Linked DNA regions of Homo sapiens. The protein of the gene in region 1 purifies or fractionates together with the protein of each later gene. This does not show direct contact. Each region holds a gene or a part of one and is shown in the gene's direction. Other genes may lie near its edges. The genes, in order: PYHIN1, HSPG2, HP1BP3, BAZ2A, AGRN, SAFB2 and PADI3.

Region 1 (3,500 bases):
CCTGGGTCCCATGACTCTTATCTCCCAAATATAAATTACAAGGATCATTAGATTGTTGAAAGAGTTTCTCTTCTAATCCCTAACTGTGTACAATCTCTAGATAAAATTAAATCACCCATGTATTTATTGAATGCATACAGTGAGATACTACCACATGATAGTCTTTGCTATCTAAAAGATATTTATTTGTGCAACGATTGCTGACCACAAGAGGGCTAGTATCTTGTCTTGCTCCACCTATGGGAGGGGTAATGGCCAGAGAAGTAGAGATGAAGACAAAGAGTGTGTTATGACCCACATTCCAATTTCTTTCACAACTTTCCCCTTTGCTTATTGGTATTATTTCTGAATTTATTTTCAGCATTCCAAGTTGAAATAAATATTCGAAGTATATATTTGGAAACATGCTATTTCATTGTTGGGAATCTATTTCTCCCATCTCATCACTGGCAAGAATTTCCTTAAATTTCAGACACCAACTTAAGTATTTTCCTCTGGCAAGTCCTCAATGATACAAGATAGCAGAACTGTTGAGTCCTCCTATTGTTTGCTTTTACAGGGCCTCCTGTCAATGAGAGTAAAGTACTAATTTCACAGAAGTGAACAGAGAGGCTTATCATATAAGATGTTTTCCATACTTCCTTGATCTGGGGTTTCCCTTAATAGGGTCAGTGTAGCACATGATATATTTGTAGAAAAGAAAAAAACTACAAGTCCCAGCATAGAACATGTAACGACAATGTTCTGTGTTTGAGCATTTAACTAGGTGTTTGGTCTTACATGTTGTTCCTGATGTACATTATCTCATTCCTTCTTCATAACCATCAAGAGGATGCTACTTTCTGTCCCAATTGACATAGAAGAAAATAGACACACTCAAACATAAAAAAAAAGTCTTCCTCAAGTTCTCAAAGACAGTGTTAGAGTCAGGATTCATATCCAGCCCTATTGAAATGTAAAACTTGAACAATTTATGATTATATGGGGCTTTAGATTAAAAGTTGAGATATACTAATGTCAGCAATTTATTTTACAAATTTCAGAATTGACAGTGTCATTTAATGAATATGTTTGCATAGCCCAGGCTCTGCAGGGCTTCTCAAAAATAATGAGGTACCCAGAATGAACAAAGTGTACTGTCATACAGAAGCCACTCTCCAGAATTAGAGTCCTCTCATTCTTCTCTATAACAGAGTGCTTTTTATATATTACATAACTGAATTCTAGAAGTGGTAGAACTATGGAAAGTAACCTATTAATGAATGGTAAAAAAAATCAGTGAAAATAGAGAAAATTATATGATTGAGGAGACCTATGTCCTTGCTTTTGGAAAAAAATGTTAAAAAACATTTACTGCAAATGCTCAAGTAGATTGTTAAGTATTTCTAAATATGATTAACAGCCCTGAGGATTCTGGCTAACTTATGCAGACTACAAAACAGCAGAATTCTGCATCTGGAATTGTGGATTTGAAAGAATCCTTCTAGCACAGTGATTAGATAGATAGATAGATAGATAGATAGATAGATAGATAGATAGATGAAACATAAAGCTGGATTTCCTACAATCTAAAGAACAGACAACAGGTACCCATTTGTGTATTTCCTTGACTAGAAAGACTTAGTTAATAAACACCCATCAGACATTTTCAGAGTGAAGTTTGTAATTCCGGTTTCTGTGTATGCAGAAGAGGAGATTTAGGGAATTTACATTTATACAGATATTCCAGAGAACATTCACAAAGAGAGGGTCCTGTTAAAATGGATAAAATATTTATTATGTTGTGACTCATATTGAAAATTATTGACCAGAAAAAAATAATCTATTTTCCTCCCAACAATTAAGGACACAAACACTGAAACTCCTGACCTCAATCTCCTAATTCAGCCCCAGAGCAGAGTGAGCCTCAGCAAACTGCAGTGAAGAACTCATTTCCATATGGGTTCCAGCATCAGGTTTCTCAGTTATGCCCAAAAACCACATCATGCAGTTTCTTACACAAGATACTATCTTGTATTTCCCATTCCTGTGCTTCACAACATCATAATTACTAGGGTGATTGGATCATGACAGGTAACTCATTGATCCCAACTGAATACAATCTTTTTAATAAAATTTATTATCATTAGTTAAGTATATTCTTTGAGACCTTATTAGATTTTGTCTTTTGGTGTTTACAAAGTATATGTTCATGAAATCATTCCTGACTCAAGAGGATTACTGTCTTTTGTTGGTCCAGGTGTAGAGAGAGATTGTGGGGATATAGCCAGATAAAGGAAGATGAATACAAGAATGTGTTCATTACCTATATTCCAGTTACCTTTCATCCTTTCACTTTGTTTATGGCCATACCTCAGGTTTTATTTTAAACTATCCATGGTCTTTTCCAAATCAGAAGCTTTGACAAAGATTGCTTCCTTTGCTGGGATCATTTTCTCCAGTCTCTTCTCTAACCCACCTCTCCAGCCTAAATCCCTTCCTAGGACAAGTTCTCACTGGTACCTGTGGGGGTTTGTCCTGCAGACCCTGACCCAACAACAGATGAATAACATACACTGACACAGATATTCTGCCTGTCAGTTCGGCTAAGGGTCCAGACCCATCACAGACACCAAAGAAGGTGCTGTAAAGAGTAGCAGCCACAGCCTCCACTAGCCAGCCCTGCGGGCATTTATTTAGCACAGATTTAATTGACAAAGGCTTTGAGTCAACACACCTGTAGGTAATTAATCTGATCACCAACCCCCAAGTAAAGAGCGATTATGCACCCACAGTTGATCAAAGGTTGGTCTTAAGACCACAGAAGTAAACAAGCTATTTAGATAAACTACCTCCTTTGTACCCACTTTAAGCTATTTACTCAAGGTAAGGATTAGGCTGCTTTCAGCCATAGCCCTATCTTGAGACTTTTACAAAACCTTCCAGCCTTCCAAGAAGATTTGTGTCTATGTCCTAGAACTTCATCTTAAAATTTTTCCACCAGCCTGACTGAACTACAACATGTCCCCCTTTTCTGTTTTCTGCATCAGGTTCTCTTGACTGAAGCATACAGATGTGTGCAGCAACAAGTCTGTTGGGTGGGGCGGTCATTGCTATTATTCTGGCTTTGCATCCTAGAATTAGCAAATAACATAAGATAATCATGAATATAATTAGCAGCATTCTTTTCCAGTCAGAGTGACCCCCAGGAACAGGTGTCAAACCAGTAGAGATAATCTTGCACACCCTTCCATATGGCTGTTTGTTGGGTGTGTGGATCTATAGTGTGAAAGGATTCTAAAATTTTAGTTTTAAGTTGCTTTATGTCTGCTGCCAAATTGTCATGAAAGGTTTCCCAGAGGTGTTGTTTCACCTCATTCCAACCATGTATTGATTGATTCCATGGTAGAGAAATGATACAGATATGTTTATGCCCCCAGTTGCAGTTTCATTGCTGTTGGAATGCCAGTGCGTCTTGTTGCTCCCCCACATATTCTAAGGCAGCCTCGAGGGATTGCAGT
Region 2 (3,973 bases), about 140 Mb from region 1:
TCAGTTCAGTACCCAGTGCCCACTATGAGGCACTGTGATTAGTGGGTGAGAACAGGTAAAAGATACAGGCTGAGGCTGGGTGCGGTGGCTCAATGCCTGTAATCCCATCACTTTGGGAGGGCAAGGCGGGCAGATCACAAGGTCAGGAGTTCGAGACCAGCCTGGCCAACATGGTAAAAACCCCATCTCTATTAAAAATACAAAAATTAGCCAGGCGTGGTGGCACGCCTGTAATCCCAGCTATTCAGGAGGCTGAGGCCGGAGAATTGCTTGAACCCGGAGGCGGAGGTTGCAGTGAGCCAAGATCCCACCACCGCACTCCAGCCTGGGGACAGAGCGAGACTCCTTCTCAAAAAAAAAAAAAAAAAAAAAAACAAGCTGGTAAGCATGTAGGCAATGATGTGGGCCTGTGTGTGAAATGTGCGTGCCTGCGAGGAATCTATGTGAAAAGGCGTCCTCCCGCTCCGTGACTTGTTGGGATGTATGCGTGAGTGAGGGGCTGAGTGTGGTGTGAGGGCTGTCTCCTGTGTCCCTGGTGGAGGTGAGAGTTTGGAAGCGAGTTAAGTGTGCATGTGAGCCGGTGAGGATTGTTGGTACTTCAGAGTTGGGTCCAGAGTGTGAAAGTGTTCCCGGGTAGCGCACAAGTGTGTTCGTGCAGTAAAGTTATGGTGTGAAGGTGTTCTTGGGTGTGGAAGTTGGCGTGCACGTGTGGCGCGGAGCGGCAGCTGCGTGCGTGTGAGCGTGGGAAGGAGATCCCGGGATCTTCAAAAGCTGCGCGAGTGGAGTCGGCCGTGCGGGGCGTGCAGGGGCGTGGAAGTCGGCGGCGCGCGCGGGGAAGCGGGGGAGCCGGGGATCGGGGAGGCGAGAGCGCCTGGCCCGGCGGCCCCATCCCATGCCCGGGCCCGGGCCCCCGGTCCCCCGCCCCGTCCCATCCCATACTCCAGGCCGGGTTTGGCGGGGAGCCGGGCCGGGCCGCGGCCCGCGCGGAGGGGGCTGGGGGCCCAGACAAAGGCCTAGTAGGCTGCGCGGCCGGCTGGGGCGAGCAGAGCCCGCGGCCCGGGGGCGGTCCGTGGGCGGGGCCTGGCGCTCCGGGGAGGGGCGGTTCGGGGGCGGGGCCGGCGCTGCGGGGGCGGGGCGGGCGGGGAGGAAAGGGGGCGGTGGGGAGAGGGCCGCGCTGTCCCGAGCTGGCCGGCGAGCGGGCGGCTGCGGGCGGCGCGGAGCGGGCGGCGCGGAGCGAGCGAGCGAGAGAGCGGCGCGGGCCGGGCCATGGGGTGGCGGGCGGCGGGCGCGCTGCTGCTGGCGCTGCTGCTGCACGGGCGGCTGCTGGCGGTGAGTGTGCGGGGCAGAGGGGCGGGGGGCGGGGGCGGAGGGGCTAGGGGCGCCCCGGTCCCGCTCGCCGCCTCCCGCCAACTTGGCTGGGGCGCCCAAGGCTGCGCGGCGGGGACTCTGGCCCGGGACGGCGGCGCCCGCCGGGGACCCCGGGCCGGCGCCACCCTGCGGCATGGGGCTAATCCAGGGGGGCCACCAGTCAGGACCCTTCGTGGGGCTGGGGGCGGGGCTGGCCCGTGTGGGAGCCCGTGGGTCTCTCGGCCACGTTGCCGAGTGCTGGAGTCTCGCTGGGCATGGTCCGGCCTACCATTCCTGGGGACCAGGAGGGGAAACTTTGAGCAGGGTGGGAACTTGGCAGGACGAGGGAACCCTTCTGCGCCAGCTTGGCAGAACGGCCACTCAGTGGTGATGGGGACCCTATGAGTCTCGCTGAAACTTTACCACACCGTCTATCACCTTGGGGAGCTTGGACCCAGGTAGGCACAAGCAAAACTTTTGGGACAGAACTGAAGCTTGTGTGGAACACCCACGGGCCTTGGAGTCATACAGCCGAAGAGTTGAATCAATCCCTGCCTTTCACTGAGTAACTGTGTGACCTGGGGCACGCTAGTTAACCTCTCTGAGGCCAGCCCCACGTGGGTCAAGGGAACTCAAAATGCACGGCCTCAAAATGCATAGCTGCAGGGCGTTGCTGGACTGCGTGGAATGAGCTGCAAAGTGCGTGGTGCGGGGATGCAGTGCACCCTTGGGGGACCCGAGTTCCCCAGCTTTCCTCTTCCCAGGTCTCCAAGAGGCAGGGAGAGGCCTGCCCTTGCAGTCTAGTCCCCTACTCTGAGCTTAGGTGGAGGAAAAGGGAATTCTACGGTCAGGAATCCCGAGGCTTAGAAGGCACTTGGCCAGCAGAGGCCCTGAGGACCTGAGTGAACTTGAGGAGGACTGGGTGGGGTCGGTGGGCAGGGAGCTAGTGGCAGATGTGGGTGGGGGCACATCTGGGGAGCCGAGCCTACCGTGGGGAGCCACAGAGCCACCCCCACTCTCTCCGAGGTGCTCCTAGGCAGTCCCCATACCTGCCTCCCTGTTCTCTGAGCCAAGAGAGGGACTTTTCTAACCAGGCTGGTGTTTACCCAGGAACTGCCTGCCTGGCCTCACCTTCCTGGCTTCATCGCACCTCTACCCTCCTGAGTCACTCGTCAAGCCCCCACCCAGACCTGGCTCCTCACTGCTCTTGCCCCACCCACCCAGCACTTCTCCTCCCCCATCCCCACTCTGGGCAGCCTCCTCTGTCGTCCTCCTGTTTCAGCCTCTCACCCCAAAATATTCAGCAGGGCCATCCAGTAGCTCCCTAGTCTTGACCTGAACTTGCACTCCTGGCACTGACTTTTACTTTTCCCAACGCACCAACCTAGCACGTGGGATGTTTTCCGAGGCCCAACAGTCTTTCCTGACCTTCCCCCAGCTCTGCCCCCGATGAGGGGCTCCTCCATGCCCGGGTGCGGTAGGATGGCGGTGGGTGGAGTTGTTTGCTGTGTGCATGAGGAATTTCCACAGACATTCCTGGACCGTGGCAGATCATCTCATTCACTTGTTCATTCAACAGATCATCACTGAGCGACATTCCATGGCAGTCACTGGGAGTACAGAGGTTCATTCTTTGGGCAGATATTTGCCATGCACCTACTGTGTGCCAGTGAACCAGTGAACCTCGTGTGGTGCTAGGGGCTGGGGTGGGTTGGACCAGCAAGGACAGGCCCTGTCTGTGCCTTCCCAGCACTCACAGGCTGGTGGGCGGTAATTTAGACAAATAAACAGGCAGCTCCAATCCTGTGGGATTAGAGAGCCTTCTCAGCAACACATGGAGGGTCGCTGTCCCACCCCAGGCTGCTGGTGGTGGGCTGGAAAGAGCTTGGCCCCTGAAGTCTCTTTATAAAATTCTTTTTAAAAAGTTTTTCAGGCCAGGCGCGGTGGCTCATGCCTGTAATCCCAGCACTTTGGGAGGCCACGGTGGGCGGATCACGAGGTCAGGAGTTTGAGACCAGCCTGGCCAACATAGTGAAACCCCATCTGTACTGAAAATACAAAAATTAGACGGGTGTGGTGGCGCATGCTTGTAATCCCAACTACTCGGGAGGCTGAGGCAGGAGAATCGCTTGAACCCAGGAGGCGGAGGTTGCAGTGAGCTGAGACCACACCATTGCACTCCAGCCTGGGTGACAGAGTGAGACTCCGCCTCAAAACAAACAAACAATAAAAAGTTTTTCGGGGCCAGGCGCGGTGGCACACGCCAGTAATCCCAGGACTTTGGGAGGCCGAGGCGAGCGGATCATGAGGTCAGGAGTTCAAGATCAGCCTGGCCAGCATAGTGAAACCCTGTCTCTACTAAAAATGCAAAAAGTTAGCCAGGCATGGTGGCACGTACCTGTAGTCCCAGCTACTCCGGAGGCTGAGGCAGGAGAATGGCGTTAACCCGGGAGGCGGAGCTTGCAGTGAGCCGAGATCGCGCCACTGCACTCCAGCCTGGGCGACAGAGCAAGACTCTGTCTCAAAAAAAAAAAAAGAGGGCATCACACTTTGTTGCCCAGGCTGGTCTCAAACTCCTGGCCTCAAGCGATCCTCTCGCCTCGGTCTCCTAAAGTGTTGGGATGAC
Region 3 (3,500 bases), about 140 Mb from region 1:
ACCTTTTTAATTCATTTATAGTACCCAGTTTTTAAAGAAGATTTATTTTGTAAAATTTTGCTTATGGTACATGTCATCTTAGCCTGTAAATAAATTAAAGCATTAATTTTTATCCCTCCCTGGTCTTTTCCTCCTTCTGACTTTATACGTCTTTCTAGAGAGCTTATCTTCTATAATAACAATTCTTTGTTTTAAAGTGAGAAAGATCAGTCTAAAGAAAAGGAGAAGAAAGTGAAAAAAACAATTCCTTCCTGGGCTACCCTTTCTGCCAGCCAGCTAGCCAGGGCCCAGAAACAAACACCGATGGCTTCTTCCCCACGTCCCAAGATGGATGCAATCTTAACTGAGGCCATTAAGGCAAGTTTTTATTTCAAGCAATTCATCTTAGATTTATTATGTTCATTTTTTTCTTATTTGAAAATGGCATATATCTGTCTAGACATCATAAATCTTGTTCTGCTTCCTAAAGGAGTTTTAAAGAGAGGAAAGTCATTATAAGTTCATGTTTTTCTAATATAATCACATTTGGTGAACACTGTTAATTTTTTTAAAAAAATTATATTTAATATAGCAAATATTTTAACTTTAGAATTTTTAAATGCAGTTTATCGATTAAGTACAGTTTTTATTTGAAGGCTGAAAATGTTAATTCATTGAACAAACATTTAAGGACTACCTTCCTCTGTTGGGCGCCCCTGCTAGTGGTGAATTAACTAAGGCTAGCAAAGTCCTTGCCCTTATAAATCTAATTGTGACTCAGTAACTGAAAAATATTGAGAATTTTTGTTTAAAAAATATCTCTAGGTTCATTTCTAAAGCTAAGTGATCTTGGTAGTGGTTATCTTTCACACCTGAACCCTGTTAATAAACACTGCTTTATTACCTAGACATTCCAAAATGCTTACAAAAATTATCCTCCTTACATAGATTTATGATTTCATTGACTTTCATTAGATGTAGTTTTCCTATTTTAATTTTTAAAGGTTATCTTCTAATTTGACATTGCCTTTATTGTATAAGTCTTTTCATTTAATTTTGCCTTGTTTAGTTCATATGATCAGATGATAAGAGGAGTTAGAACAGACCCATCTTTCAGGGACCCTGTTGTTAGGATCTGAGGCAGGACTGGGGAGACAGGGATACAGATGATTTTAACCAGAAAAGGGGGGATGTGTACGAAAAGGAGCAGCCTGGTTGTCATTCTCAGAATATGAGAAGATAGCACTAACACATAAACTGGAAAAAGGGTTTGCCTTCAGACTTCTCCCTTTACTCCTTCAAGACTTCTTATGCTCTCACCTCATTAAGAAAACTTTATTGGTCTAGATTACCTCACTGTAGTGAAATCTCTGTTCTTTGTATAGCCTTTCTTCAAGGATTTCACTTGATGACCACTCAGCCTGGGTTTGAAGGAGCAGCATCATAGTGAGGATGGAAAAAGGGCTGAAACTTTAAAATAGTGAAATAAAAAATTAAAACAATATCAATTTGGCTTAAAGAATGGTTTGAATATAATTGTGCATATTTATGGAGATGATTGATTTTATATAGATAATGTGTATTCCATGCAATATGACAAATTATTGTTTCAGACCATGGATACCATTTTCTGTATTGAACAGGAATCATGATGTCTACTACCATCTCACTGTCGGATTGGTGGAGCAAAAGATTATTTGTTTCAGCATTAGTGTTCTTTTCTGCTTGATTTTCTTTGCTCTGTGTTTTCTTTTAAGATCAGGAGTAAACCTCAGTAGGTCATTAATAGTTCAGAGACATAGACTTGAATTACATGACCCATATTAATACAACTTGTTTCGTGTTGTGCAATCTTTTCTGGACCATCTACCTGTGAGTTATTTTTCTTTGTTGTCAAAATGTATAAAAACATTCAACGAAGTTCTTATCCAATGAGAATGAATAAGTGCTACATTGATTTAATAGACACTGTGGCAGTACAAAATTGATGGACTAGCTCATTAGATAAATGACAGATGCTACTTTTGTGTGTTTCAAAATTTAAAGTATTTGATTTCAAGTCAGTGACCAGTTGGAAAACAAAATTTTAAGCATTTGAAAAAAATTAAGTATTTGCTGCCTTTGTGACATAATGAGCTACTTAATTCTTCCAGGTGCATTAGTCAAATGGAGTATAAGTAAAATAGGATGGAAATGGAAGAGGGCACATTAAATTCAAATAGAACACCTTCACTATTACCCAAAACTCTCCTTCAGCACTTTGCCATCTGTAAACCCATTTTTATGCCACTTATTCAGATTATCTTTGATTCTTCTTTCTGCTGACATTCATACAGAGCCTTCAGGGAAATGTCCTGGCATGCTCATTCCTTAAGCTCGTGCCTTAAAATGGGACAGATCTGTGATCCTGTAAGTGATAGGTTTGTTCTGCTTTTCTCATTTTGATGCCAAAGATTCATCTTCTAAATACAGAATGGAATTAAAATGGAAAGAGGTTCTTCATTATACATAGAATGTTGTTCGTGTTCAGTATGGTCTCTTAGGCTGTTTTGAACAATTTAAAATTGTAGTAGAAATATTTAGTAATTCTGTTACTTCTCTGTAGTCATTATGAACTGAAGTCTTCTGAAGTTCATTCTTCCCTACCGTTTTTGTCATCTATCATCAAATTCACTTCCAAAATAATTTATTTTGAAAATATATGTCAGGCTCTATCTAATAAAAAAAAACAACTAGTTTAATAAATCTTTTCTAGGCATGCTTCCAGAAGAGTGGTGCATCAGTGGTTGCTATTCGAAAATACATCATCCATAAGTATCCTTCTCTGGAGCTGGAGAGAAGGGGTTATCTCCTTAAACAAGCACTGAAAAGAGAATTAAATAGAGGAGTCATCAAACAGGTATTACACAATTGTTAGTAGTAAGATCATTTCATTGTGTATTAGCTTTAAGTCTACAGTTAGTAACATTTAGGCTTTTTGTGCCTTTTTTGTTAAAAATAAGTTTCATGATGATGAAATTCCTTAAGTTTAACCTAGTTGAATTATCTGAGGCTAGGTTTCGAAAATGCTGGTGCCATTAAGATAGTGTAACTTTTTTCTAGCTTACTTTGCTCTTAATTGGATATTTTTTGGGGGGCTGCTTGTGCTTGAAATCATGTAGCACTGAACATGAAAAAGAGGTAAGGAATCCTACTACTGAAACAGCAAAAATGAGGCTAGGGATGGTGGCCTACACCTGTAGTCCCAGCACCTTGGGAGGCTTAGTTGGGAGGATCACTTGAGCCCAGGAGTTCGAGACCAGCCTGGGCAACATAGCAAGACCCCTTCTCTACAAAAAATACAAAATCAGCAGGGTTTGGTGACACATGCCTCTAGTCCCAGGTACTTGGAAGGCAGAGGCAGGAGGACCGCTTGAGCCTGGGAGGTTGAGGCTATTGTGAGTTACGATCTCACCACTCCAGCCTCGGTGAGAGTGAGACCCTGTCTGAAAACAAAAAGGAATAACAGAAATAATAATTGC
Region 4 (3,500 bases), on another chromosome or scaffold:
AGAATTGGATGTTTTCTGACCAGTGTTTCTTAAATCTTGCTTTCTGATTTTTTTCTCATTATCCTGCTCTGATTTTTCTACCCTTGTAAACAGAGCCAGTGAGTGGAGGACTATATGGTATTGATGACACGGAGCTGATGGGTGCAGAGGACAAGCTGCCTCTTGAGGACAGCCCTGTGATTTCTGCCCTTGATTGCCCTTCCCTCAATAATGCTACTGCCTTCAGTCTCCTGGCAGATGATAGTCAAACATCAACCTCTATCTTTGCCAGTCCCACCTCTCCACCTGTCCTAGGGGAGTCTGTCCTGCAAGGTAAGTGACGGTAGGTAGGACAAAGAAAGACCTTTACCTGAGAAAAGATGAGAGAATAAGTTTCATAGTTAGGGCCTTAAGAGTGGGAAATCTGGCTGGGCGCAGTGGCTCACGCCTGTAATCTCAGCACTTCGGGAGGCCGAGGCGGGTGGATCACCTGAGATCAGGAGTTTGAGACCACCTGGCCAACATGGTGAAACCCCGCCTCTACTAAAAATACAAAAATTAGCCAGGTGTGTTGGCACATGCCTGTAATCCCAGCTACCTGGGAGGCTGAGGCAGGAGAATCGCTTGGCCCCAGGAGGCAGAGGTTGCAGTGAGCCGAGATTGTGTCGTTGCACTCCAACCTGGGCAACAGAGCAAGACTCCATCTCAAAAAAAAAGTAGGAAAGCAAGAGCACCTTGCTGGGAGCTGAGGGGCTATGGGATAGTGTATGGTGGAACTAAAAGAGGTATAGGCTGCTATACTCCGACCTGTGCCCTCTGCTTTGAAGAACTTGTGAGACTTGGAATTTGTAGGGAGAAGGAGGCTAGAAGCTTTATTGGCACCAGGTAAAAGGTATTTCTTCACACAATGACATCTGTAGCAACTTTACCCTTTAATCCTCATGATTGGTTGGGAGAAAAAGCTACTTCTTTTTCCAACCCTAGGGAAGACCCCTTGAAGTAACCCTGTTTAGCTTGGTCCAGGGTTGACTGAGTAGATTCTCTTGTTTTATGTGATGCCTTTTTTTTTTTTAAAGCCTATCCTGTCCCTTTGGATTCTAGATAACAGCTTTGACCTGAATAATGGTAGTGACGCTGAACAGGAAGAAATGGAAACTCAATCTTCAGACTTCCCACCATCCCTGACCCAGCCAGCTCCTGATCAGTCATCCACTATTCAGCTACATCCAGCAACCTCACCAGCAGTCTCGCCAACAACCTCCCCAGCAGTCTCCCTAGTGGTTTCTCCAGCAGCCTCCCCAGAAATCTCTCCAGAAGTTTGTCCCGCAGCTTCTACAGTTGTCTCTCCAGCAGTCTTCTCAGTGGTCTCTCCAGCTTCCTCAGCAGTCCTCCCAGCAGTCTCCTTAGAAGTCCCGTTGACGGCTTCAGTGACATCCCCAAAAGCCTCTCCCGTAACTTCCCCAGCAGCTGCCTTTCCAACAGCCTCCCCAGCAAATAAGGATGTCAGCAGCTTTCTAGAAACCACTGCTGACGTGGAAGAGATCACTGGAGAAGGACTCACTGCTTCTGGTAGTGGTGAGTATCCAGATTCTATTCTATCCCTGTCTGGTTCCAAGAAACTTTTCTGTCCCATGTTGTAGTTAGCCTTTCCCTATTGGCCTATTGTTTAAATATTTTGCTTGAACTCTTAACTTGGGTATCCCTTCCTCCCAAGGTGATGTCATGAGGAGACGTATTGCTACCCCAGAAGAAGTTCGTCTTCCCCTCCAACATGGGTAAATGCTCTAGTTTGCTACATTTATTGACCTTGACAAGTTTAATGCACAACTCTAGAAAGAAGGGAATGCCTCTTTTCCTCTGAGGTGGGGGAGGAATGGGCCAGACAAGAGTAGATTACAGGACAGTTATCTGCAGTGATAATGTTTCTTGGCATGAGATTCCTAGGTTTTCCTTCTTCTCTCAAGGTCTGTCTTCCATCACCTATTCTTTTTTCATCTTGTAGTGACTCAATTTTGCCCAAGGAGCTCCAGCTATTATCTTTTCCAAACCCTAGGGCTCACATCCAAACCAGCTGGCTTGTCCTATTTCTGTGGACAAGGGATAGTAATGAATGAGGAGTGACTTAGTACTAATGAATTGAGGTGGTTTTGTTGTTTTAATGCTCTTAGGAGAGGTAAGGGCAGGAACAGTACATGACCAAAATGAACAAACTAGCTGACACCAGGGCCTTGTGGAAATAACTGCCTTCCTGGATCTTCCCCACCCCTGCCCCTCAAGGCTACTTGTGGTCACCAAGTCTGAGTACTGCTTAAAATTTTGAGAGAAAGATTAGAGTTAGTCTTAGAACTAACTCTGACTAACTTTGTGTTCTGCTCAGAACACAGAGTTCCTAACTAAACCCTGGCATATTGAGTCTTTTCATGGAATCAGCAGCAAATTTATTTTTCTGCTTGCCTCCCTGCCCTTTGTCTTCTGTCTTTATTCCCCTTAGGTCTTTATCCTCTTTACTGGAAATCCAGTAACTGCCCTGAATGGCTCAGGGAGGGGTTTCTGGCAGCTTATCTCACTGATTTTGTAAAGGAGGGATGGAGATCTCTCTGAGCTTGTGCAGTTTGGTGTAGTGCTTTTCTCCTAAGGGCCTTGATGTATTTGCTGGAGCTCAAGTCAGCCTTCTAGCCAAGCTTATCTCTCTTGGTGCTTTTGCATCTGCATGCAGTTCTAGAGATACAAATGTGGGGAGGGCCATCTGCTCAGAGGGCTTCGCGCTTAGGTGGCATGGGAGTGGGTAGGGGTGTGACCTGGCGGCAGGGCCCATGTGCTTCTCTGGCAGGTGGCGGAGAGAGGTGCGCATCAAGAAGGGCAGCCACCGATGGCAGGGGGAGACCTGGTATTATGGCCCCTGTGGGAAGAGGATGAAGCAATTTCCAGAAGTGATCAAGGTAATGTAGCTTTTTTTAAAGGACTGCTTTCTTGGGCTCAGTGGACTCCTTTCCACTGCCCAAGACTCCGTTCTTGGGCTCAGTGACAACAGGCTGGCATTGTCTGCTCTGGGCCTGTTCTGCTTATGCCTTTGCTGGCCAAAGACATGGTAGGATCCAACTTTATTAATGTTACTTTACTTCTTCCTCTTAGTACCTGAGCCGCAACGTGGTACACAGTGTCCGCCGAGAGCACTTCAGCTTCAGTCCCCGTATGCCTGTTGGAGATTTCTTTGAAGAAAGAGACACGCCAGAGGTGCAGACCCAAGGGTTAAATATGCTTTTGTCCCTGAGGAAGAGTTGGTGGACAAGCTGCAGCTTCCTCTCGTGGGGTTTGAAGGTTCTGGGGCATTGAATGGTTCCGAGGGCCTCGTGGCCTGCACTGATTCCTTACTACTGTAACAGTCTCCCTTGCTACCTTAGGGCTTGCAGTGGGTGCAGCTCTCAGCAGAGGAGATCCCGTCGAGGATTCAGGCAATTACTGGCAAACGGGGTCGACCTCGAAACACTGAGAAGGCTAAGACTAAGGAAGTCCCCAAGGTG
Region 5 (3,500 bases), about 160 Mb from region 1:
TCCGGAGGCTCTGGCTCTGGGGAGGACGGTGACTGTGAGCAGGAGCTGTGCCGGCAGCGCGGTGGCATCTGGGACGAGGACTCGGAGGACGGGCCGTGTGTCTGTGACTTCAGCTGCCAGAGTGTCCCAGGCAGCCCGGTGAGCTCTGTACCCCTGGCTCTCGGCGGGCGGCGGGGACGGGGCTGCGGCCGCTCACACTGACACCACCCTCCAGGTGTGCGGCTCAGATGGGGTCACCTACAGCACCGAGTGTGAGCTGAAGAAGGCCAGGTGTGAGTCACAGCGAGGGCTCTACGTAGCGGCCCAGGGAGCCTGCCGAGGTGAGCCGGCTGCACGTGGGGTCTCAGGCACAGGCGGGGCGGCGTCTGGGTTTCCGTGTCTGGATGTGGGCGTGCCCGTGTGCTGCGTTGGGCCCCTGTGGACGTGTGTATTGTGTTGTAAGTGAGCATCGTCCAGTGTTGGTGCCTGTGCACATTTGTGCAGCTGCGTGTGTGGGCGTGTGTGTCCATCAGTCAGTGGGCGTGCACCAGGCCAGGCCTCAGTGCTGAGAGGCAGCGTGAACCATGCGGGGCCCCACCGTGTGGGCACTTTCTCTGCATACGTCCATCCGGTCGATGTATCACATCAATTAGGTAAAAGTGGTGCCCGGTGTGTGTGATGCGCGTGCACAGATGTGTGTCTGCAGAGGGGCGTTAACTGTACGGTTTGGAGGAATGTGGGTGAGAACGCATGCTGACGTCTTCAGATGTCTGTTTCTCGATTTGCAAGGAAGCTCGCGTGTGTGTGTGCACAGAGCTGCGTGTCCGTGATCTTTGGATGCTCTGTGTGTTGTGTGTTCCTGGATCTGCATTTACAGACATGTTCTTGCGTAAGATGTGGGAGCCTCACCTGTGTCCTCAGCCCCAGGCTCCCGGGCTCCTCTGGGAGCTGGGATCGGGACGGCTGAGTGGTGACAGTGGGGGTAGGTGGAGGCAGACTGGCTGGGTCCAGGGTGGGTGTCCAGCACTGCATGAAATCTGAGTCCCGTACCCTTTCCTGCAGGCCCCACCTTCGCCCCGCTGCCGCCTGTGGCCCCCTTACACTGTGCCCAGACGCCCTACGGCTGCTGCCAGGACAATATCACCGCAGCCCGGGGCGTGGGCCTGGCTGGCTGCCCCAGTGAGTACCTGAGCTCAGCCCCGACCCCGGGCCTGGTGCGGCTGTGCGGCCACGTGACCTTGTCCTGCCCTGGCCTTTCAGGTGCCTGCCAGTGCAACCCCCATGGCTCTTACGGCGGCACCTGTGACCCAGCCACAGGCCAGTGCTCCTGCCGCCCAGGTGTGGGGGGCCTCAGGTGTGACCGCTGTGAGCCTGGCTTCTGGAACTTTCGAGGCATCGTCACCGATGGCCGGAGTGGCTGTACACGTGAGTGACAGGGCCCAGGACTGGCCACCGGCTATGCCCTCCTACCTGTTCACCCCCATCACTGTGCTTCTCCTCACCTGCCCAGGCCCTGGCCTGACCCACACCTGGCTGGGGGCTGGGCAGAGCCAGGGTTGGGGACCAGGCTCTGGAGGAGGTGGGGAAGCCCGTCCAGGTGCGGACATCACGTTCCTCCCCGATTTTCCCCAAAGCCTGCAGCTGTGATCCCCAAGGCGCCGTGCGGGATGACTGTGAGCAGATGACGGGGCTGTGCTCGTGTAAGCCCGGGGTGGCTGGACCCAAGTGTGGGCAGTGTCCAGACGGCCGTGCCCTGGGCCCCGCGGGCTGTGAAGCTGGTGAGTGAGGGCCAGCGCTACCCTGGGGCTTCATGGGGTGGGGTGGGGTCACCCGAGCCACAGAGGTTTCCCATGCCCGTGCCCCAGACGCTTCTGCGCCTGCGACCTGTGCGGAGATGCGCTGTGAGTTCGGTGCGCGGTGCGTGGAGGAGTCTGGCTCAGCCCACTGTGTCTGCCCGATGCTCACCTGTCCAGAGGCCAACGCTACCAAGGTGAGGGGTGTGGGATGTGAAGGGGAGTGGGGAGGAGGCCTCGCCTTGAACATCCTTGTTCTCTGCCCCAGGTCTGTGGGTCAGATGGAGTCACATACGGCAACGAGTGTCAGCTGAAGACCATCGCCTGCCGCCAGGGCCTGCAAATCTCTATCCAGAGCCTGGGCCCGTGCCAGGGTGAGGCCTGACGGCCACTGCCCCAGAACTGACCAGGAAGGCCTGACGCTGCCCTAAATCCAGCCCCACCCGCCCTGAGCCACCTGACCCTGTCCCAACCGGTCCCCCCGCCAACCTCCCTCTCCTTGCAGAGGCTGTTGCTCCCAGCACTCACCCGACATCTGCCTCCGTGACTGTGACCACCCCAGGGCTCCTCCTGAGCCAGGCACTGCCGGCCCCCCCCGGCGCCCTCCCCCTGGCTCCCAGCAGTACCGCACACAGCCAGACCACCCCTCCGCCCTCATCACGACCTCGGACCACTGCCAGCGTCCCCAGGACCACCGTGTGGCCCGTGCTGACGGTGCCCCCCACGGCACCCTCCCCTGCACCCAGCCTGGTGGCGTCCGCCTTTGGTGAATCTGGCAGCACTGATGGAAGCAGCGATGAGGAACTGAGCGGGGACCAGGAGGCCAGTGGGGGTGGCTCTGGGGGTGAGCAGGGATCAAGGACTTGGGGTGGGTGGGCAGGCGCCGAGAGGCTCCACCAGAGCCTGGGCTCAGAGCGCGTCTCCCCAGGGCTCGAGCCCTTGGAGGGCAGCAGCGTGGCCACCCCTGGGCCACCTGTCGAGAGGGCTTCCTGCTACAACTCCGCGTTGGGCTGCTGCTCTGATGGGAAGACGCCCTCGCTGGACGCAGAGGGCTCCAACTGCCCCGGTGAGTGGACGGCTGGGCGAGGGGAGTGTGAGGATAGCCTGGGCTCGGCCGAGGTGCTGCCCCCTCGCCTGGGCAGCAGGTCAGTGCCGGGGGTTATGGTCTTGGGACTCGGCCCCCTCAAACATGTGCGTGCCGGGGACCCCACGCCTAACCCGTCTCTCTCGTTGCAAGCCGGTGTGGCACACTGCTCTGAGGAGTCCTCCTGGTAACCGACACCAGCCCCACCCTGGGGTCCCCACTAACCTCATGACCATCTGACTAACATCCACCTTCCCTTGCACCCTTGTGGCTTGCTGCTGGGGCCTGTGCCTGGGCCAGCCTGGATGCCAGGCAGATGCCAGGCAGGGCCTCACTGTACCTCCCCCACAGCCACCAAGGTGTTCCAGGGCGTCCTGGAGCTGGAGGGCGTCGAGGGCCAGGAGCTGTTCTACACGCCCGAGATGGCTGACCCCAAGTCAGAACTGTTCGGGGAGACAGCCAGGAGCATTGAGAGCACCGTAAGACGGGGGCGCAGCCCCCACCTACCCACTGGCCTTCCTCCCCAGATACCCAGAGCAGCACCAGGGCAGCCCGGCTTGGGCGGCCCCCCAAGTCCTTGCCTACTCCCTGCCACAGCTGGACGACCTCTTCCGGAATTCAGACGTCAAGAAGGATTTTCGGAG
Region 6 (3,500 bases), on another chromosome or scaffold:
GCTAGACGAAACTGAAGTGGCGAATAGCAGTGCTCCAGATTTTGGGGAGGATGGCACGGACGGCCTTCTCGATTCCTTTTGTGATAGTAAAGAATACGTGGCTGCACAGCTGAGACAGCTCCCGGCTCAGCCCCCAGAGCATGCTGTAGGTAACTTGGAGACACGGCAGGATGTGCCCATAGCCCCGAGGCACCTGGTGCTCGCGTGCTGCTCGTGTGAGGGAGAACACAGCTAAACCGCCATGAACACACAGTTCTGCTTCTACACCCTGGTGTTAAACCATGTCCATTTAAACGCTGTGTAGCTCAGGGATTTACTCATAGATAGCTTTTCTGTAGCACTGGGGAGTGTTTTTATAATTCGAAGCATGTGGTGAGTCATAAAATAGAAAGCTCTGACATAAAAGATTTTTCTTTTCTGAGATGAGGTCTCAACTGTTACCCAGGCCGGTCTTGAACTCTTGGGCTCCAGCGATCCTCCTGACTACCTGGGCTTATTGGCACAGGCCACAGTGCCCATTTAGTTTTTTCCTTTTAAAATACAGTTTTAAGAAGCAAAGATGGTTTATTTATTTAGAGACAGGGTCTTGCTCTGTTGTGCAGGCTGGAGTGCAGTGGGGTCATCATAATTCACTGCAGCCTCAGCCTCCCAGGTTCAAGCAATCCCCCTGCATAACTGAGACTACACAGTGAACCACCACGCCCAGCTAATTAAAAAAAAATTTTTTTTTTTTTAGAGGCGGGATCTCACTAGGTTACCCAGGTTGATCTTGAACCCCTGAGCTCAAGCAATCCTCCCGCCTCAGCCTCCCAGAGTGCTGGGATTATAGGTGTGGTCCACCGTGCCCAGCTCAAAAATGGTTTCTAATCTCATCATGTAGATATTCCTCCTAATGTTGTGTTTTGTTTGTTTGTTTGTTTTTGAGACAGAGTCTCTCTCAGTCACCCAGGCTGGAGTGCAGTGGCAAGATTATGGCTCACTGCAACCTCCGCCTCCCTGATTCAAGCAATTCTCCTGCCTCAGCCTCCTGAGGAGCTGGGACCAGAGGCATGCGCCACCACGCCCAGCTGATTTTTTTATATTTTTAGTAGAGATGGGGTTTCACCATGTTGGCCATGATGGTCTCCATCTCCTGACGTCGTGATCTGCCCGCCTTGGCCTCCCAAAGTGCTGGGATTACAGGCTTGAGCCACTGCGCCCAGCCACTTGACTAATTTTTTATATTTTTGGTAGAGATAGGGTTTCATCATGTTGGCTGAGCTGGTCTCGAACTCCTGACCTCAAGTGATCTGCCTGCCTCGGCCTCCCAAAGTGCTGGGATTATAGTGGTGAGTCACCACGCCTAGCCTGTTAATGTTGTTTTAAGCAAGGTTAAGCAGTTACATTAAAAGATGTAAAGTACAGTGAAGACAAGTATCAACCCTGCTCCCCAAAAGGACTGACTGTGAGCATCCTTGTATGTAAAGGAGGAACTTTGCTCTGTTAGGGCTTTCCCAGCTTTTCACTTCTAGTGTTTTGGCGTAGAGCTCTCTGGTGAGGCTGTTCAAATATCACAAGCTGTCAGTGTCTTCGAGCTGATCTTCATTGTACTCTGACTGATGTCACGTGCCCAGTAGGTTGTTTTGTTTCCTTAAGGCATTGCAGCTTTCAGCTTGGGGGTGGAAATGCCTCCATAGGACTGAACCTTAAACCTTACGGTCAAAAGTCATTGCCTCCAAATTTACCATCCTTTGACCTAGGGCAGCACTGAGCAACTGGTTAGCCGCCTTTCTCAGTCTGGTACTGCTGTGTGCTTATTGTTTTCAGAGTGTGTACTTCTCAGTTAATGGAGGCATCCCAGGTCATGAGTTCAAATCGAGAAAAGGAAAAAAGAAAATATTTGGGAGTGCTGTTTTTGTAGTTCACTTAAAAAGAGCTTCAGATTTAGTAAAACTTGGTGTTAACAGTTTTTCTTTTGTTTGGCATGTAGTAAAGAGAGAAATTGACCAAGTTAGATGTTTGTTTTTAATAAAGTAGGCTAGGCGGGCCAGGCGCGGTGGCTCACACCTGTAATCCCAACACTCCGGGAGGCTGAGGTGGGCGGATCACCTGAGGTCAGGAGTTCAAGACCAGCCTGGACATGGTGAAACCCCGTCTCTACTAAAACATACAAAAAATTAGCCGGGCGTGGTGGTGCATGCCTGTAATCCTAGCTCCTCGGGAGGCTGAGGCAGGAGAATTGCTTGAACCCAGGAGGTGGAGGTTGCAATGAGCCGAGATGGCGCCATTGCACTCCAGCCTGGGCAAAAGGAGTGACACTCCGTCTCAAATGAATGAGTGAATGAATGAATGAATAAAGTAGGCTAGGAGAAAGTGCCCGGTTAGTGTTACCTTAAGAGTATTGCTACCAGGTGAAATTGGAGGGGTGCATTTTATCATTTTGAGTTCTGCTTTGGAAATCCTGTGATTGGAGGGGTATGTGGTAATCACCAGTACTTAGAAACTGCCTGGGAAATTCATTCGTTCATTCACCCAGTACAGACAGGGCATACCCACCTGCAGGCCACTGCCAGAGACGCTGGTGGAGCAGAGTCGTGGAGTGTGTGTTCTGGCGGAGAGGCAGGTGCTGAACTGAATGACCCAACAGTAGACTTGCAGATGGCAAAAGGTGCCGTGAGGGAAATAGACACACAAGTTGCCTAAGCGAGGTGTCAGCCTTGGTTTTCATAGCTCCAGCCTCCACGAAGTCATCTTCCATTTTGTTTTTCAGGTGGATGGGGAAGGATTTAAGAACACTTTGGAAACTTCATCGTTGAACTTCAAAGTAACTCCGGTAAGTTACCATCTGGTTCTGCATCGCTGGAAATGTTAATCGAGTGGTTGATTTTCCATAATGAAAGAGCAGTGTGTATGTGTATGGAAATGACTGGATACTGTGCTGGATGCTGGGGTTAAGAGGTTAGCAGAAGAGAAACAGTCTCAGGGCTGGCCATCTAGCAGGGGCAGTGGGATCAAACCAAATATGTAACCAGAAGGGAGAAAGAAGTGTGATGAGGGAGCAGTTCTGGTGGTTGGACTTCATAAGTGCCTGGAACTCTTCCCAGAGGTCTGACGGATAGGTTGAAGAGGGAAAGAAGAATTTGGAGCAGAAAGTTTGGGTGGTGTCTCTGATGCAAAAGAGAGAGGGGAGCACACAGGGTTGGATAGAAGCCAGAGGTGTTGCAGAGCAGCTGGGCCCGCCTCGCTGAGTCTGGGCCACCAGAAGGATTGGACCTATTGTCCTAAGTGAGACAGATGTCGGAAAAGGTTTTCAGCAGAGTAGAGAGATCATTTTGTTATGACAGGTTTCAGTTACAAATCAGTTTATGTTGGGAGAAGTATTTTTTTCTTAAATCCACTGTGACCTCTTCTCTGACAAAGGGGGTGTTTGCCAGCTGCAGCAGCCACTAGGTCAGCTTGGTCATGGGGTGGGTGGCATGGCAGGGCAGGGCCCAAACTCGGGAGAATGGGACAGACTGTTA
Region 7 (3,975 bases), about 140 Mb from region 1:
TGGCTCACGCCTGTAATCCCAGTACTTTGGGAGGCCAAGTCGGGTGGATCAAGAGGTCAGGAGATCGAGACCATCCTGACTAACACGGTGAAACCCCGCCTCTATTAAAAATACAAAAAATTAGCCGGGAGCCGTGGCAGGCGCCTGTAGTCCCAGCTACTCGGGAGGCTGAGGCAGGAGAATGGCGTGAACCCGGGAAGTGGAGCTTGCAGTGAGCCGAGATCACGCCACTGCACTCTAGCCTGGGTGACAGAGCGAAACTCTGTCTCAAAAAAAAAAAAAAAAAGAAACTTGCCCAAGGTCGCCCATCCAGGAAGCAGCTGAGGCAGGGCTGAAACCCAGGTCTGGCTCTAAAATCCATTAAAAAAAAAAAGTTGGTGTTTCTCAAAGGGCACCAAAATGCTTTGGGGGTGCTTATTAAAAAATCCAGAGGGCCGGGTGCTGTGGCTCATGCCTGTAATCCCAGCACTTTGGGAGGCCGAGGTAGGTGGATCACCTGAGGTCTGGAGTTCAAGACCAGCCTGACCAACATGGAAAAACCCCGTCTCTACTAAAAATACAAAATTAGCCGGAAGTGGTGGCACACGCCTATAATCCCAGCTACTCGGGAGGCTGAGGCAGGAGAATTGCTTGAACCTGGGAGGCGAAGGTTGCGGTGAGCCGAGATCGCACCATTGCATTCCAGCCTGGGCAACAAGAGTGAAACTCCGTCTCAAAAAAAAAAAAAAAAATCCAGAGGCCAGGCTGCACCCCTAACCTGCTGGATCAGAGTGGACAACAGACCTGGGAATCCGCATTTTCACCAGCTTCCCCAGCAGAGTAAGAAAGCTCCCCATTATAGTCTCTGAAAATGCAGAAAATGGAGGTGAGGAAGCAAGAAGCGTCCGAGATCAATATCATATATCTCTGCACCCCCTCAACAGCACCTGCCCCCAACAGTTCCTGGTGCCTAGCCAGGTACCTGTGGGGACTTGCTTCCCAAGAAATTAACTTCCTGGGTGCCGGGGTCGGGACAACAGGTTCGTATACAAATACTGGGTCCCTTCCAGCCAATCCTGAGCTCTCAGCTCTGGGAAGGGGCTGGGCTTTCATGACTGGAGCCAATGAATTGGCACCCTGGGCTGGAGGGGTGGGGCCAGGGGCTTTTAAACCTCATCCTAAGGGGCCTCAGGGGCAGTGTTGGGGTTGGCGGCCACAGCTAAGTCCAACACCAGCATGTCGCTGCAGAGAATCGTGCGTGTGTCCCTGGAGCATCCCACCAGCGCGGTGTGTGTGGCTGGCGTGGAGACCCTCGTGGACATTTATGGGTAAGAGTCAGAGGCCTAGTGGTTTGCAGGCCCTTGGTGCTGATGCCCTTGGACCTTCCTCCCTGCAGGCTGGGCAGGGCTTCTTCAGGGCCCACTCCCCAGCCTTGGCCTCGGAACAGCAGCCAATCAGGGAAGCTTGGGTCCTCCTCTTGCTCTACTGAGTTTCCTGAAGACCTTAGCCAGGGAATTTGAAGTTTGGGAGGCTGAGCCAGGTAGAAGAGGCTTCAGTGACTGAGCTCCAGACCGGGGGCTTGGAGGGGGCTGGTGCCGCGAAGAGATGGCACTTTTCTATGTCCAAGGGATGCTGCAGGTTGGGCTGAGGATCTGTCTGGGGCACACAAGAATAGGAACAGGCAGATATCCCCAGCCCCATCCTGAGCCTATGAGCCTAGAAACAGAGCATGAATCATTTTTAAAAAATAAGTTAATACATAGCACTTACCATGTGCCAGGCACTATTCTAAGAGCTTCACAAGTCTCTTGAGTTAAGTTTTGAACTTTAATCTTGAATTTAACCCTTACAACAACCCTGTGAGCTAGGCTTATTATTAGCATCATCTCATCAGACAAATGAGAAAACCGAGGCAGAGAGGGCAAGCCATTTGCTCAAGTCACACAGTTACTAAGTGGCAAAGCCAGGGTTTAAACCCGCTTGTGGTCTTACTCAGGAGTCTTATGGTTTTAGCTGCTCTGATACTTGGAAAATAAAGATTTCCAACCTGGTTTCCTCTAGACACTCAATGCCCATGCATTATGCTCCTACTGTGTGCCAGGTCATGCCTTTGAGGCCCATGGTAGAGGGAGGTAAGGCCTTATCTTCTCTCTCTTAGGAAGAAAAGAGGGTTAGGGTAGGGTTTTAAGAGCTGGGCTCTGGGGACCACCAGGGAGCTGGCTTCTTAGGCTTTTGGGGAGAATCCAGGGTCCTGGCTTGGAGGTAATCAGGATACTGGGAGGGGAGGGTGCAGAACTGTGGGACAGCTCTCACCTCTCAAGTCTCCCAGCCCTCTCCTCAGGCCAGGTTTCTCAACCTCAGCACTGCTGTCACGATACCTCTTTGTCATGGGGGCCACCCTGTGCACTGTAGGATGGAGAGCAGCATTCTGGGCCTCTCTTTGCTAGATACCAGCAGCACACTCCCGAGTTGTGACAACCAAAAATGTCCCCAGACATTGCCAAATGTGCCCTGGGGTGGGAAGAAAATAGCCCACCCATTGAGAACGAGTCTCCAAGACTAAGACTCGAAAAATCAGGGCGAACTTAGTCGGGAGCAGCGATGGGGTTGATCCAGGGCATTGGATGAGAGGGGGTGAGGAGCTGGTCATGGGAGGGAACCAAGTCGGGAGCAGAGCCAGCCCAGGAAATAAATCCTGGTATTGGTGGGTGGGCAGTAGGAGGAGGAAGGGGATTCAGTGGTTCTTGAAGGAAGGGGCAGCCACGGAGGCTGTGCCAAGGAGGTAATGAGGAAGGAGGGGTATCTGCCACTTGGCACCACTGCCTGCCTGCCATGGGGTGACTGGGCTGCGTGCCATGGGGTGACTCACCTGCCCCTGCTGCCTCGTGCCCGTTGGGCAGATGTGTCTCCGGTTTGACCTGTCCCAGGAAGCCTGGGCCTGGCTCCTCCCCCGCAGAGCTTCCTTAGAGGATAGAGGATGGATTGGGGCAATAAGAGATAAAGGCCATAGCTTCCTGGAGTCACCTGAGCCACACTGGAGGTTTGCAGAGAAGGCCATCGGTGGGACAGCCACAGGGTGGGGGATGGAAGCTCTGATACCTTCAAATGAGGGATTCTTGGGCCCTGGTGGCCAAACCCCCCAGGGGTGGGAGTGGAGAGCTCCTAGTTCGTTCATTCACATATTCTTCAAGTATTTCTTTTGGGTCTAGTGTGTGTACCATTCAGAGCCTTGAAGGATGAGCACAGGCTCTGGGGACACATACAGGGGAGAACAAGCAGCTCCTCCTCTCTGAGAAGCCAGCAGAGGCTGGACAACCTTCTTACAAGGGTGCCACAGAAAGGACTCCTTTCTGGGAAGGGGAGCAGGACTGAGTTAGTTCTGAGGTCCCTCCCGGCTTGGAGGTGCCATGATGTAACAATCCTGGGTCCTCAGCCTGCGGGCCAACAAGAGAAAGGGCAGTAGGTGTTGTGGCTCAGTCCTGGCTCTGCAACTTCCCAGCTCTCTGACCGTGGGAAACTCCTTTAACTTCTCTGAGTCTCTGTTTCCTCACCTGTTGCCTGGGGATGATAATAATATCAGCAATGGCACTGAATGCCACTCCCCAGCAGTGCCTGTAAGCGCTTTCCATATGTTAACTAATTCTCACAAAATTCTCAAGTGGGCACTGTCATCATCGTCATTTTATAGATAAGAAAACAAAGGCACAGAGAGGTTAAACAACTTGTCCAAGGTCACATGGCCAGTGAGTGGCAGAGCCAGGATGTAACCCAGTTTGGCCTTACTTCAAAGGGCAGTTAGGGGCATTGAATGAGATTGTGTGTGCAAAGCATGTAACTAATACTGATTTGTGGTGAACATTCAGTTATGTTAACTGTCACCATTATCATCATCATCAGTTTAAGGCTTTGTCCTGGGCCTGTGGACAGCCTCAAGCATCCCCAAACCTGCCATATGCAGGATGTCTGGGGAACAGTCTCTGGACCGTATTGGGAGAA

Evidence for each region.
Region 2: the proteins of PYHIN1 (region 1) and HSPG2 purify together in Homo sapiens (affinity purification with mass spectrometry; 2 studies listed by BioGRID and IntAct, with this or other methods). This does not show direct contact.
Region 3: the proteins of PYHIN1 (region 1) and HP1BP3 purify together in Homo sapiens (affinity purification with mass spectrometry, with the first as the bait; 2 studies listed by BioGRID). This does not show direct contact.
Region 4: the proteins of PYHIN1 (region 1) and BAZ2A purify together in Homo sapiens (affinity purification with mass spectrometry; 2 studies listed by BioGRID and IntAct, with this or other methods). This does not show direct contact.
Region 5: the proteins of PYHIN1 (region 1) and AGRN purify together in Homo sapiens (affinity purification with mass spectrometry; 2 studies listed by BioGRID and IntAct, with this or other methods). This does not show direct contact.
Region 6: the proteins of PYHIN1 (region 1) and SAFB2 purify together in Homo sapiens (affinity purification with mass spectrometry; 2 studies listed by BioGRID and IntAct, with this or other methods). This does not show direct contact.
Region 7: the proteins of PYHIN1 (region 1) and PADI3 purify together in Homo sapiens (affinity purification with mass spectrometry; 3 studies listed by BioGRID and IntAct, with this or other methods). This does not show direct contact.

The regions. Positions count from the first base shown.
Region 1 is NC_000001.11:158,945,052-158,948,551, forward strand, and holds part of PYHIN1 (pyrin and HIN domain-containing protein 1 isoform alpha 1), read left to right. Parts: intron 1-3,500. UniProt on the Homo sapiens protein: Major mediator of the tumor suppressor activity of IFN in breast cancer cells. Promotes ubiquitination and subsequent degradation of MDM2, which leads to p53/TP53 stabilization.
Region 2 is NC_000001.11:21,934,511-21,938,483, reverse strand, and holds the start of HSPG2 (basement membrane-specific heparan sulfate proteoglycan core protein isoform b precursor), read left to right. Parts: upstream 1-1,173; 5' UTR 1,174-1,266; coding exon 1,267-1,329; intron 1,330-3,973. UniProt on the Homo sapiens protein: Integral component of basement membranes. Component of the glomerular basement membrane (GBM), responsible for the fixed negative electrostatic membrane charge, and which provides a barrier which is both size- and charge-selective.
Region 3 is NC_000001.11:20,770,308-20,773,807, reverse strand, and holds part of HP1BP3 (heterochromatin protein 1-binding protein 3), read left to right. Parts: intron 1-197; coding exon 198-357; intron 358-2,734; coding exon 2,735-2,878; intron 2,879-3,500. UniProt on the Homo sapiens protein: Component of heterochromatin that maintains heterochromatin integrity during G1/S progression and regulates the duration of G1 phase to critically influence cell proliferative capacity.
Region 4 is NC_000012.12:56,609,827-56,613,326, reverse strand, and holds part of BAZ2A (bromodomain adjacent to zinc finger domain protein 2A), read left to right. Parts: intron 1-93; coding exon 94-312; intron 313-1,080; coding exon 1,081-1,554; intron 1,555-1,693; coding exon 1,694-1,754; intron 1,755-2,787; coding exon of another isoform or gene 2,788-2,809; coding exon 2,810-2,918; intron 2,919-3,111; coding exon 3,112-3,213; intron 3,214-3,380; coding exon 3,381-3,500. UniProt on the Homo sapiens protein: Regulatory subunit of the ATP-dependent NoRC-1 and NoRC-5 ISWI chromatin remodeling complexes, which form ordered nucleosome arrays on chromatin and facilitate access to DNA during DNA-templated processes such as DNA replication, transcription, and repair.
Region 5 is NC_000001.11:1,044,120-1,047,619, forward strand, and holds part of AGRN (agrin isoform 2 precursor), read left to right. Parts: coding exon 1-138; intron 139-214; coding exon 215-320; intron 321-1,041; coding exon 1,042-1,158; intron 1,159-1,239; coding exon 1,240-1,404; intron 1,405-1,613; coding exon 1,614-1,757; intron 1,758-1,844; coding exon 1,845-1,969; intron 1,970-2,040; coding exon 2,041-2,146; intron 2,147-2,277; coding exon 2,278-2,616; intron 2,617-2,700; coding exon 2,701-2,838; intron 2,839-3,207; coding exon 3,208-3,335; intron 3,336-3,453; coding exon 3,454-3,500. UniProt on the Homo sapiens protein: Isoform 1, isoform 4 and isoform 5: neuron-specific (z+) isoforms that contain C-terminal insertions of 8-19 AA are potent activators of AChR clustering.
Region 6 is NC_000019.10:5,612,777-5,616,276, reverse strand, and holds part of SAFB2 (scaffold attachment factor B2), read left to right. Parts: coding exon 1-145; intron 146-2,749; coding exon 2,750-2,812; intron 2,813-3,500. UniProt on the Homo sapiens protein: Binds to scaffold/matrix attachment region (S/MAR) DNA. Can function as an estrogen receptor corepressor and can also inhibit cell proliferation.
Region 7 is NC_000001.11:17,247,923-17,251,897, forward strand, and holds the start of PADI3 (protein-arginine deiminase type-3), read left to right. Parts: upstream 1-1,175; 5' UTR 1,176-1,215; coding exon 1,216-1,307; intron 1,308-3,975. UniProt on the Homo sapiens protein: Catalyzes the deimination of arginine residues of proteins.